Linked DNA regions of Homo sapiens. The protein of the gene in region 1 interacts with the protein of each later gene in a biochemical or structural test. Each region holds a gene or a part of one and is shown in the gene's direction. Other genes may lie near its edges.

What was found.
Region 2: the proteins of BCL2L1 (region 1) and PMAIP1 interact in a biophysical measurement, tested with the Homo sapiens proteins (3 studies listed by BioGRID and IntAct, with this or other methods).
Region 3: the proteins of BCL2L1 (region 1) and HRK interact in a biophysical measurement, tested with the Homo sapiens proteins (3 studies listed by BioGRID and IntAct, with this or other methods).

Annotation. Positions count from the first base shown.
Region 1 is NC_000020.11:31,716,122-31,719,868, reverse strand, and holds part of BCL2L1 (bcl-2-like protein 1), read left to right. Parts: intron 1-3,024; exon of another isoform or gene 3,025-3,248; intron 3,249-3,747. UniProt on the Homo sapiens protein: Potent inhibitor of cell death. Inhibits activation of caspases. Appears to regulate cell death by blocking the voltage-dependent anion channel (VDAC) by binding to it and preventing the release of the caspase activator, CYC1, from the mitochondrial membrane.
Region 2 is NC_000018.10:59,897,731-59,901,477, forward strand, and holds the start of PMAIP1 (phorbol-12-myristate-13-acetate-induced protein 1), read left to right. Parts: upstream 1-2,265; 5' UTR 2,266-2,447; coding exon 2,448-2,505; coding exon of another isoform or gene 2,506-2,635; intron 2,636-2,697; coding exon of another isoform or gene 2,698-2,852; exon of another isoform or gene 2,853-3,747. UniProt on the Homo sapiens protein: Promotes activation of caspases and apoptosis. Promotes mitochondrial membrane changes and efflux of apoptogenic proteins from the mitochondria. Contributes to p53/TP53-dependent apoptosis after radiation exposure. Promotes proteasomal degradation of MCL1.
Region 3 is NC_000012.12:116,875,309-116,879,055, reverse strand, and holds part of HRK (activator of apoptosis harakiri), read left to right. Parts: intron 1-511; exon of another isoform or gene 512-598; intron 599-2,255; exon of another isoform or gene 2,256-2,365; intron 2,366-3,747. UniProt on the Homo sapiens protein: Promotes apoptosis.

The DNA of each region.
Region 1 (3,747 bases):
TTGCCTGACTATTGTCTTTGGCCAGTGGTCCTAATACCAGGTGGGTTGTTGCCAGCTATAAACAAAAGGCAGTCTGGGAGAGGTGCCTGGTCTGCTAGCCAGCCTCTGCAGAAGGCTACCCCTACCAGAGAATTGCCAGCTGCCCAGTGGTGCATATGAAAGAGGTCTTAGACACAGCAACTCTGGGTAAGTTTATTAGATCTCCATGGGGTTGAAATTCCATCTTCCATCTCTTTGCTTAAGAATCATCAGAGCCTGTTGGACAACATACCACATGTCACTTCCTCTTGGTGAACAGAGGGGATGTGTGTGGAAGAGCCAGTTATATCAGAACCATTTCTGAGCACACATTCTCTCCCTAAGGCCAGGGAGTAAAGAACATTTGACTCAGGATCCTTTGAGCCTGGGTAGAAGGTACCCGCCCCCTTCCTCTCAGGTATTATCCTGTTCCAAGCTGCACCGACTGGCTACTGTGGTGGCATCGGGTAATTATCCTGGAGACTGCGGCTGGGAGATCCTTAAGGGTAGGAGTTATGGGCTATTCTACTCAGGGCTATGTTCTAAATTTAGCATCCCTACAGGAAAGGGGAAGGAAATTAGTCTTTATTGAGTACCTGTTAAGTACTAGGCACTGTGTTAGGTCCTCTACTTATGCAACCAGTGTTTCTTGAGCATCTACTGTGAAGCTAGCAGTGTACTAGGTGCTGGCCATAAGCCACGCATGGTACCTTCCTTCATGGAAACGGCATGCTGTTTCATATATTCTACAGTAACCTTCCAAGGAAGGTGAGTTTATTCCCAGTTTACACATGAAGGTCTTTGTGCCTAAGTGACTGACCCCAGGTGTCCCTCAGCCAGTTAAGTGTCTGAATGAGAATTTACACCAAGGTTGGCATAATTCTAAAGCCAACACTTTTCATCCTATCAAGTTGTCCAGGGAGTAATAAAGTGACCTAGACATGCTGGCCCAGAAAGCCAGAGATGCTGTTGGGCCAAGCAAACCATGCCTGTGAAGGTGCTCACTCTGGACTGATAACTGGCTTTGTTCAGGTAGCTATGGGAAGGATAGTTGGCAGTAGCAGGTTCCCAGAGGCGTGTTGGTAGCCTCAGATTCTGGCACTGGTAAAACTCAGACATGGCAGGTTTCAAGTGGGCATCAGGGTTTTGCCCAGAGTGAGCTGCTTATTAATTTTTTCTTTTTTTTTTTTTTTTTGAGACGGAGTCTCGCTCTTGTTGCCTAGGCTGGAGTGCAGTGGCGCGATCTCAGCTCACTGCAGCCTCTGCCTCCCGGGTTCAAGTGATTCTCCTGCCTCAGCCTCCCAAGTAGCTGGGATTACAGGCATGCGCCACCACACCTGGCTAATTTTGTATTTTTAGTAGAGATGGGGTTTCTCCATGTTGGTCAAGCTGGTTTCAAACTCCCAACCTCAGGTGATCCGCCTGCCTCAGCCTCCCAAAATGCTGGGATTACAGGCATGAACCACCGTGCCTGGCCCCGGCCAATTTTTTCATTGTTAAAACCCTCTCAGGCCCTGCCAATAGATGACAGTGGTGTGCGTGTGGGGAGAAGGTGGCCTGCCCCAGGTATCTCTACTTAGTGGTGGAGTGATGCTTCAAGGACTGAAAGTGTAGACCCTTAGCCAGATTACTGCCTGCCTGGAGTCACCTGATGAAATGCTGAACCTGTTCGGCTGTCTTGTCCATCTGTCTCTCCCGCCTGTAAAATGGAATAATGATAGCCAGCTGCCATAGCTTGACTCGAGTAAAGGATCTAGCACAAAAGCCCTTCTCCTGCCATAATTGTAGGGTGGAAACCCTTTAATGAATGGGCAGCTTCCCTCAGAGAACTGACTCTTCCCCCTAGAGTTTCTCCTTGAGAAACAAAGTCCCTGTGATACTTTCCTGGAATGTTGTATACATGACCTTCCCCGAAGGGACACAAGTGTTTCTGGTGCTTTCCAATGGGAATGTGGGAAGGGACCCAGGTGGGCCTTGCCACTTTGGGATTGCTGTCCCTGAAGAAATCCCTTAGCCTGATAGAAACGTAATTGTTGGGAGCAATGAACTGTGTTGGGGGAGAAAACATAACTTGGCCTTTCTTAAGCTGTATGGCTCAGTGGTCTGAGTTTCTGTAGATCTCTTATTGCCTAATGTGGCTTCTTCAGATGGATGTATGCTTAGTTGAAGCACCTCAGCTCCCTTTGCAGATAGTGGCAGTTCTGTGGTTTTCTTAGGGAAACCCCATTAGAAACCCCAAATGTGGAAATTTTTAGTAATCTCATTCGGGTCCCAAAATTAAGTAGAAGTGTCTCAGGGGCTCCCCCTTGAAACACCTACTTCTTCTGAGTGTACATTTGAGGTTGCTCTTAAAATTCTGTTACCATCACAGGGTTTTCCAGACTTCCTAGGAATAATTTCCCCAGTAGCCCCACAGAGCCCTTTAGCTTCTGTCGAAAATTACCCGGGTATTTTTTCAGGGGGCTCCAATGGAACCTGGAGGGTTTTCTTGACTTTTGTATGGGTGTCCCCAGATTTGTTTGGGCTGCATGAAACAGCAGTTGTTATCTCTGTCCCTTCCCCCAGCAGATATCTGTCCTGAGGCCAGTGGGCTTGAGCGTCCTCCTCTGTGTCCAGTCTCCCTGGTTTTGCCAGTGCCCTCAGCCTTCCATCATGGGGCTTTCTTGAAGCAACTGTGGTTTTGCCTGAGTTTAATGTGGATAGACATAGGGGTAATTCCCAGTGTACTGCTTTTCTACGGAAGTATAATCTCCTACTGCCTTAATTAAGCAGAGGCCCTGTCCCCACCCAACCTCCAACCTAATTCCACAGAGTCCTCCCTAAGGACTCCCTCTTTTTTCTTTGAAGGAGTCACTCTACTCCTGGATCCTCTTCTCTTCTGCCCCTCTATCCGACAGTCTGTCTTCCTTGTTCCCAGTTGGCAGACCTGAGTCAGGCAATCCCACTGGGTCTTTTTGTTTAGCCTGGGGAAGAGAAGACCCAGGAGAATATCACCAGCTTCAGATATCTGAAGGAAGAGGGACTGAGTCTTTTTTTATTGGTGTGGTACCTGGCAAAACTTGGATAAATGAAAAGAAGTTAACAGTTGGTAGAGCTTAAATTATGTGCAGAGAAGACATTTCTAACAGATTTACTCTGTCCTAGATTTAGGAGCTCCTCAGGGTGGAGGCCACATCTTGTCCATGCTTGTTTCCTCAGCACTGAGCAGAGGCCTTGGGCATAGCAGATACCTAATTGAAGAGAAACCCACTAAATTTCTGAAGAAACAGACCCTTGTCAAGCCAGAATAACAATAATGGGAGTGGCTATTTACCTAATAATTCATTCGTTGAGTCAAACAATGTTTATTGAGCTCCTACTGTGTACCATACTGGGAGTATGGCAGTAAACAAAAGTAAGCAAAACTAAGTTTCTGTCCTCATGGAGCTCACATTCCAATGAGGAGTGACAGGCAATAAATATATAATTACATGTTTATATCAGATGATTGTACATGCTATGAAGAAAATAAAGCAGGTTGGGGCATAGGGCATGTCTAGCAAGGGAGGGTGGGGCTGCAGTTTTAAAAGAGTGATCAAAGAAGGTGTAAGGGAGAAAAAAATGGCTTTCCTCTACCCTTCTAGGTCCTTTGGCTGGGCTGAGAATTAAATTGACATAGACAGATTAACTGGAGGAAAAATAATTAATTACATAGTTGTACACAGGAATCCTACAAAATATGAGGCTCAA
Region 2 (3,747 bases), on another chromosome or scaffold:
TGCCTAAGGTTTGTAGCCAGTGTGAGTCACATGACCAATTCTTTTCTAATGAAAATGTTAGAGGATGGGATTAACATACCTTTTATAGGTAAACAATGTTGTGATTCACTTTTTTTTTTTTTTTTTGGTGGTTGTTGAGTATATTCTCTGCATTTCAGGGTGCGTATTTGAACGACAGAAATTTAATAATTTATGCAACCAAAAAGTTAACGGTGTTCCTTATGTATTAGGTAAGTCAAAATGAGCCTGGAGTGGTTTTGAATTACCACTTGGGGATAATAGATTTCAAGGCAGCATCTCCAGTGTGCTTCCTGCGTCTTGTGATGATTCCTAAATTCTGTCCACTTTTACTCGTTTGTATATACCCCATTCAAAAACAGCCAACATCAGCCTCGAAACTATGTTGTTTAAACTCAAGAGCAGTTTTGTTCCATGCTTATATTGTTGTCCATACCTTCAGCAGGACCAAGCCATAAATAAATACTTGCTGGTTTGTGTTGACTGAATGATTTAAGATAAATAAACAACCTCAAATGCCTACTGAGGCCAGATAATGTAAATGGGAAAAGCAAACAGCGGGGAGTGTGGTGAACAGGAGCACCCTAGGTTCCTCTAAAGGGTGTGGCTTCGACCACACTTCAAACCTAGTTTGCACTTTTGGAAAATGGATCCCACGTTGTCAGAGATTCTGGTTTTCCAAGAGATGCTGGAATCTGGGTTTTTCATGCAATCCCTCAATGTTTAAAATGTTGGTAATCAATTCAAATTTTTACAATACATTTTGAAGGCCAATACTGTAAACCAAACTAAGCACTTCTAGGGAGCCCATGCAACGAATTTGCAATCTTTTCATTAAACAGCACAGCTAATATGAAAACACGCTTTTTTTTTCTTTTTCTTTTTTGAGACAGAGTCTTATTCCGTCACCCAGGCTGGAATGCAGTGGCGCGATCTCGGCTCACTGCAACCTCCGCCTCCCAGGTTCAAGCGATTCTCGTGCCTCAGCCGCCCAAGCAACTGGGACGACAGGCGTGCACCACCAAGGCCGGCTAATCTTTTGTATTTCAGTAGAGACGGGGTTTCACCATATTGGCAAGGCTGGTCTCGAACTCCTGGCCTCAAACGAACCACCCGCCTCGGCCTCCCAAAGAGCTGGGATTACAGGCGTGAGCCACCGCGTTCGGCGAAAACACACATTTTCTAAGAAACTGATTGCTGGGAAGGCTACAGTGGGTAAGAGCTCTTGCTCTCTGTGGGCCTGCCTGGTTCGGAATCAGGGCAGTGCTCTCTGCCTAAGTGAACTTGGGCAATTTTCTACAAACCTCAGTTTCTGCACCCGTAAAGTAGCAACGGTTGTTCTGAGGACGGAATGAGAAAATGCATGTCAAAGTCCTTAGCATGAAGCGGCTCTCAGTAACCGTTAACCACTCCTAATTACTCCTCTTCATAATAGTAGAATTACTCATGGCCTCGCCAAACATTATGCAAATAATTTCACGTTCCCAGGTAGCTCAGCCCTCCCACAAAAGATTTGAACGTTTTCCATATGATAACGATCCACTCGTTTTTGCTAAACATCCACAATGGGCGATATCGACCTATCTGGAAGGACACACACAAATCCCTTCCCAACTCAAACACGATGTTCTTTCTGGCTGGCACCAGGGCTTCTGTTTGCAGTGACTTCCTGGGACCCGGAGCTTTCTCACAGGGCCTCTGGCATCTCCTCTGCGGTGATTAAGGTTCTTCTCATTTCCCTTCCCTGTTACTGCCCATACTCTTCAAGTTCGAAAAGTTTCCTTTTCCAATCTCTTTTCTGGGCTTGTTTACCCAAGTCTCTAATTGCCAAGGCCTCTGGTCTCTCCCCACCCACAACGTTCCTCCTGGTTAAACCCTTCCCCTCCCGCCACTCCCAGCTCCCGCCACTCCCAGCTCCCGCCACCACTGCCGCTGACGACGTCCAGCGTTTGCAGATGGTCAAAGCCGACCCCCTTCTCCTCCCACCTCGTTTTGTAAGGAAGTAATTTCGGGGCCGAGCGCTCTGCGCCCCCCGCCGCGGGTCGGCGCCGCCGCGGGTCGGGAGCGTGTCCGGGCAGGTCGCGCTCAGCGGGGTACTTCCCCGCCCGCGTCCCGCGTCCGCTCCCATAACGCCGTCTGCGGGGCGGGGACAGGGGCGGGGACAGGGGCGGGCCGGGCGTCTAGTTTCCCTACGTCACCAGGGAAGTTCTCACTGGACAAAAGCGTGGTCTCTGGCGCGGGGATCTCAGAGTTTCCCGGGCACTCACCGTGTGTAGTTGGCATCTCCGCGCGTCCGGACACCCGATCCCAGCATCCCTGCCTGCAGGACTGTTCGTGTTCAGCTCGCGTCCTGCAGCTGTCCGAGGTGCTCCAGTTGGAGGCTGAGGTTCCCGGGCTCTGTAGCTGAGTGGGCGGCGGCACCGGCGGAGATGCCTGGGAAGAAGGCGCGCAAGAACGCTCAACCGAGCCCCGCGCGGGCTCCAGCAGGTACCGACCCGCTGGGGCCAGCGAAGACCCAGGCCGGGCGGGGTCGGGGCCGGGGTCGAGGTCTCGGCTGGGGCGGGCTCAGCTCGCCGGGGCTCAAGCACAGACTGCACGGGGGTCAAGGTCGGGCCAGGTCTGTGCCCTGGCGCGAGCCTTAGGGGCGCCTCCAGAAAGTTCTTCGGGGTTTTTCCCCAGGACCGGCGGGTACGGCGGGTACGGCGAGGGACCAAGCCGGATTTGCGATTGGGATGCAGCTGCGTTTCACCAGGGGCAAAAAGCTCCTTTCCTCCTCTCTTTCCTCCTCGCCACTTGCCCTTCCCCGGGGCCACGAGGAACAAGTGCAAGTGTAGGCGGCTGTCTCTAGGAGAAAGTCATTGTCGCGGCAGAAGGGGCAGGAGAGAGCCCCGGGGACCGCCTGGACTCCCAGCGCTTCCAGAGACGGCCCCACAAGGGCCCCTGTGTTCAGGAGCCTAGAAAATCTTGTAACATTTAAATAATCGATATTGTGGGAGGTGGGGATAGGAGAATAGGAGTTAGTCCGCTCCTTTTTTTCATTCATTCATTCGCACTCCCCACCCCGATACATACAGCTCCATCGTAAGTTTTCAGGCCAGCGCCCCGGCCCCATGCTTTTTCTAAATCTAAACAGAGAACCCAGTCACTGCCCAGAGCCCGAAGTCTGTGTGGGCCATACTGCTGTTGCATCAGACGATTATACGCCCCCCCCACCTTTTAAGTTACTTTCATTTTATAGAGCTCCTGGGGCGTGCGAAGGAAGTGGTGCATTGCAAATGTGACCATGCCTAAGTTGGTAACAGGCTGCTGTCTCTGGCGCTTGTGTGGGATGGAAAAAGCTTTGTCTACCTTTTGTGATGTCTTAGGATTCTGACCTTGTTTCTTTCTGAAGGATCTTACTTATGCATAGCACTTTCTGGTCCGACTTAATTCCCAAGAACAGGAAGCAGCACAAAGTCCCTCTTAAACTTGATTTGATTGATACTAATACATTTATAGGTGTGTAATGCAATTTTTAAAAAATTAAGGAAATGACCGGGAAGTATTTTCTGCCTTGTTTTCTACATTTTTGGTGAAAGGGATAACTTTTCCACTTAGAATTCAGGGCTTCCAGTGTCGGACGCTGAATGGTATTTGGTTTTTCTTTTAGAACTGTATATTAATATATCTCAATCTCTGTAGACAACATGTCTATGTAAATACTTCCCAACATATTTGATCTTGTAGCCC
Region 3 (3,747 bases), on another chromosome or scaffold:
AATGCTCCCGGGGCCTGGAAGGGGAGGCTGCGGGCGGGGCGGGCAGATTGCGCCGCTCTGCGCCGGAGCGCAGGGGAGGAGTTGGGTAACTGGGGCCTGCGCTGCAGGGGAGGGCGGCGGCCAGGAGTTTCGCTGTTTTGAGTCGGTGTTGGGGGGCAGCAGCAGGTTATTGTCTCTGTGGAGTTTATTTCCCCCGCCCCGCCCTCGCCTTCTACCCCAGAGTTACTTCCGTGCTGCGCCCTGACTCGGAGACACCCTCTTCCCACACCTCTGGGTTCTTCTCCTACCTGCCTTGTCCCGCCCGGGCGTCCCCTGCAGCCACACCCTCCAGGGTTCTGCAGCCTCTGGCGCCCTGACCTCAGGATGCCCCGCTCGGCTTCCCAGCAGCACCGCCCCTCATACCCTCGGGACACCCGTAGAATTGCTCACCACCCGCCTTCCTGCGCTCCCAGGCCGGGTTCTCAGTGCTCGGGCTCCCTGCACTGGCCCTGATCAAGTTCTCTCCCTGCAGCCTACATCTGACCTCAGAATACCAGCCGCTCCGGCCTTTCTTGTGCTTTTGATTTAATTTGGGGAAACTCATTTTTTCCCAGCTCTGGTAAGTTAAGTAAAGGGGAAAGAAAAATCACCGGAGGAAGACAGTCTGTTGCGTTCTATGCTGGATATGGGGTGCTCTCCACCTTCCCTACCCTAAAAGAAAAAGGGGAATGTTCACAGCTGTACCTTAGGTGTTTGAGGGAGGCCTGTGCCAGCCATATAGGGTGGGAACTACCACTTTCAATTCCCATAGGTTTAAAGGGTGTGCTCCGCTATATGCAGAATCAATATTTTCAACATACAGGCCAGGCAGGTTGGCTCACGCCTGTAATTCCAGCACTTTGGGAGGCCAAGGCAGGTGGATCACCTGAGGTCAGGAGTTTGAGACCAGCATGGCCAACATGGTGAAACCCCATCTCTACTAAAAATACAAAAATTAGCTGAGCGTGGTGGTGCACACCTGTAATCCCAGCTACTCGGGAGGCTGAGGCAGGAGAATCGCTTGAACCTGGGAGGCGGAGGTTACAGTCAGCCAAGAAGAGCTGAGATCACACCACTGCACTCCAGCCTGGGCGACAGAGCGAGACTCCATCTCAATAATAATTTAAAACATATATGTGTATATACACATACATATATCCAGCATACTTGTTTTGAGTCTCTACTGCGAACCAGCAATACTTTTCTCAGAAGTCATCCTTTAAAAAAATAACAAACAGAAACAAAAACCCAAGACTAAGTTTTCCCATATGTAAAATGGGGGCAAAAAATGGGGGCCCACCAGCCAGACTTAGTGCATAGGCACGTTATTAAGGGGGTTAAATGAATTCATACACGGAAAGCTCTAGAACAGTGGATATACATGTGAGCCATCATGATTATTATTGTGCATTTACTATCATTCTTTCCCAAGGTAGTCAACATTTTACCATTATTATTGCTGGCCATTCCACACCACTCCTACCTGCCCTCCCGGGAAGTCAGTGCCAGAAGGGTCAGGAGAGAATAATGGTTAAGAGACTCTTAAGTGTCCAGCCATTTGCTGACAGCGTGACCTTGAGAAAGAACCATTACCTCTGCACCTTTATCTGTAAACTGGAGCTGTATCCTTCCAGGGTTATTGGGAGAATGATAAGAGAACATTCATTTAAAGTGTCCAGTGCAGGCCGGGCCAGTGGTTCAGTCCTGTAATCCCAGTTCTTTGGGAGGCCAAGGTGGGCGGATCACTTGAGCCCAGGAGTTCAAGACCAGCCTGGGCAACATGGTGAAACCTTGTCTGTACCAAAAAAAAAAAAAAAAAATTAGCTGGGCATGGTGGTGTGCACCTGTAGTCTCAGGTACTCAGGAGGCTGAGGTGGGAGGATCACTTGAGTCCCAGAGGCAGAGGTTGCAGTAAGCTGAGATCGCACTATTGCACTCCAGCCTAGGCGACAAAGTGAGACTCTTGTCTCAAAAAAGTCCAGTGCAGTGTCTGTCTCTTAACTTCACTCAACAGAGGATGTCATGAAATGGTCAGTGTCATTCCTTTTAATTCAAAGGGGAAGCCGAGGCAGAGAGCATCCACCTAAGTGATCCCCAGTGGAACTGCAGCTTCTGTCTTTGAGGGCACACAGCGCCCCCCACCCCATGACTTGCGGGGGAAGAGGAGATAGGGGCAGTAAGCAGACCGGGTTGGTGCACAGTGAATTCCTGTACAAGTGAAATTCCCTTTCTTCCAGAGCCCCAGGGGAGGCTCCTCTGAGGCTGGGGAGGCCTGGAGGAGGATGGGTATGATTTAACCAGTCAATACTCAAAGATACAGGAGAGAGGGAACAAAAGACGCTTTATGGTGAGTGCTGGCTGGCGGAGGCGTGGGAGGGAGGGAGGGAGAAGCGTGCCTGGGGAGGGGGCAGGGAGGGAGAGAGAATGGAGCCGAGGAATCTGCCTGGGAGTCGGGGCCAGGGCTGGGTAGAATCCTGCCTTGGGAGCAGGGGAAGGGGAGAGAGGGGGACTCCGCAGGCCCATAAGGCGACGTGGTCAGTGGCAAGGAAGATAATGGGCCAGCGGGAGCCTGCTTTAATGAATTAATGACAGCCTGGCCCACCAGCCAGACATGCTAACTGGTTCTTGGCAGGTACTTTGGGGATTAAGTGGTTAAACCTGGAGGCGCATCCCGCAGGCCTCCCTCCCAGCTCGCAGCACCCCTGCCAGAATTACTTTTAGAGCTTGAAAGCTTGGCCTTCTGTTTGGCGAGGGAGCCCGAGGAGGACAGCTGTTGGGGAGGAACCCCCCGGGAAGGGGCCAGATGTGCAGAACCAGGCAGCCTTCCTGCCACATGGTCTCTGTCTGGAGTCATCCGCTCGCATAGTGAGAGGCCAGAGTACAAGTGACTGAGCTGTGGATGGAAAAGAGCCACACCCGGGGATAATTAAATATACCCCCAGATGTGGGCTGGCTGGATTTGGCAATCATAACTCTAGAGTTTTTGAAAAGTCAGCCTTTTAGACAGGCAGATAACGAGAGGTGGGGAGGGGGCTTCCGTTTCTTGGTAGTCCTCACTAGTGTCCCTGTGATAGGATTTCACGGGAATAGAAAGCTAACCCACAGTGTCCCTAGTCCCTGGCAACTTGCTTGTCTCATAGTAGGTGTACAATAACTATGTGCTGTGTTAAATGAATCAGAAACTATGCAACATCAGCCGGGTATGCTGGCTCACACCTGTAATCCCAGCATTTTGAGAGGCTGAGGCGGGTGGATCACTTGAGGTCAGGAGTTCGAGACCTGCCTGGCCAATGTGGTGAAACCCCATCTCCACTAAAAATACAAAAATTAGCCAGGCATGATGGTGTGTGCCTGTAGTCCCAGCTACTTGGGAGGCTGAGGCAGGAGAATTGCATGAACCCAGGAGGCGGAGGTTGCAGTGAGCCGAGATCGCGCCACTGTACTCTAGCCTGGGCGACAGAATGAGTGAGACTCTGTTACAAAAAAATAAAAAATAAAAAAAGAAACTATGCAACATAGTCACTATTGTTTCCCAAATTCAGGTTCTTCCACTTATACAACTGCTAATTATTGAGTACCTTCTGTGTATAGGGCACTGTGGATACAGGAAGGACCAAGACATAAGAGTTCCCTGCTTTCATGGAGCCCACATTTTAGTGGGAAGAGACAGACAATAAGTAAATATTGTTCTTGTTACTACTTCTGTGTAACAAATTACTCCAAAACTAC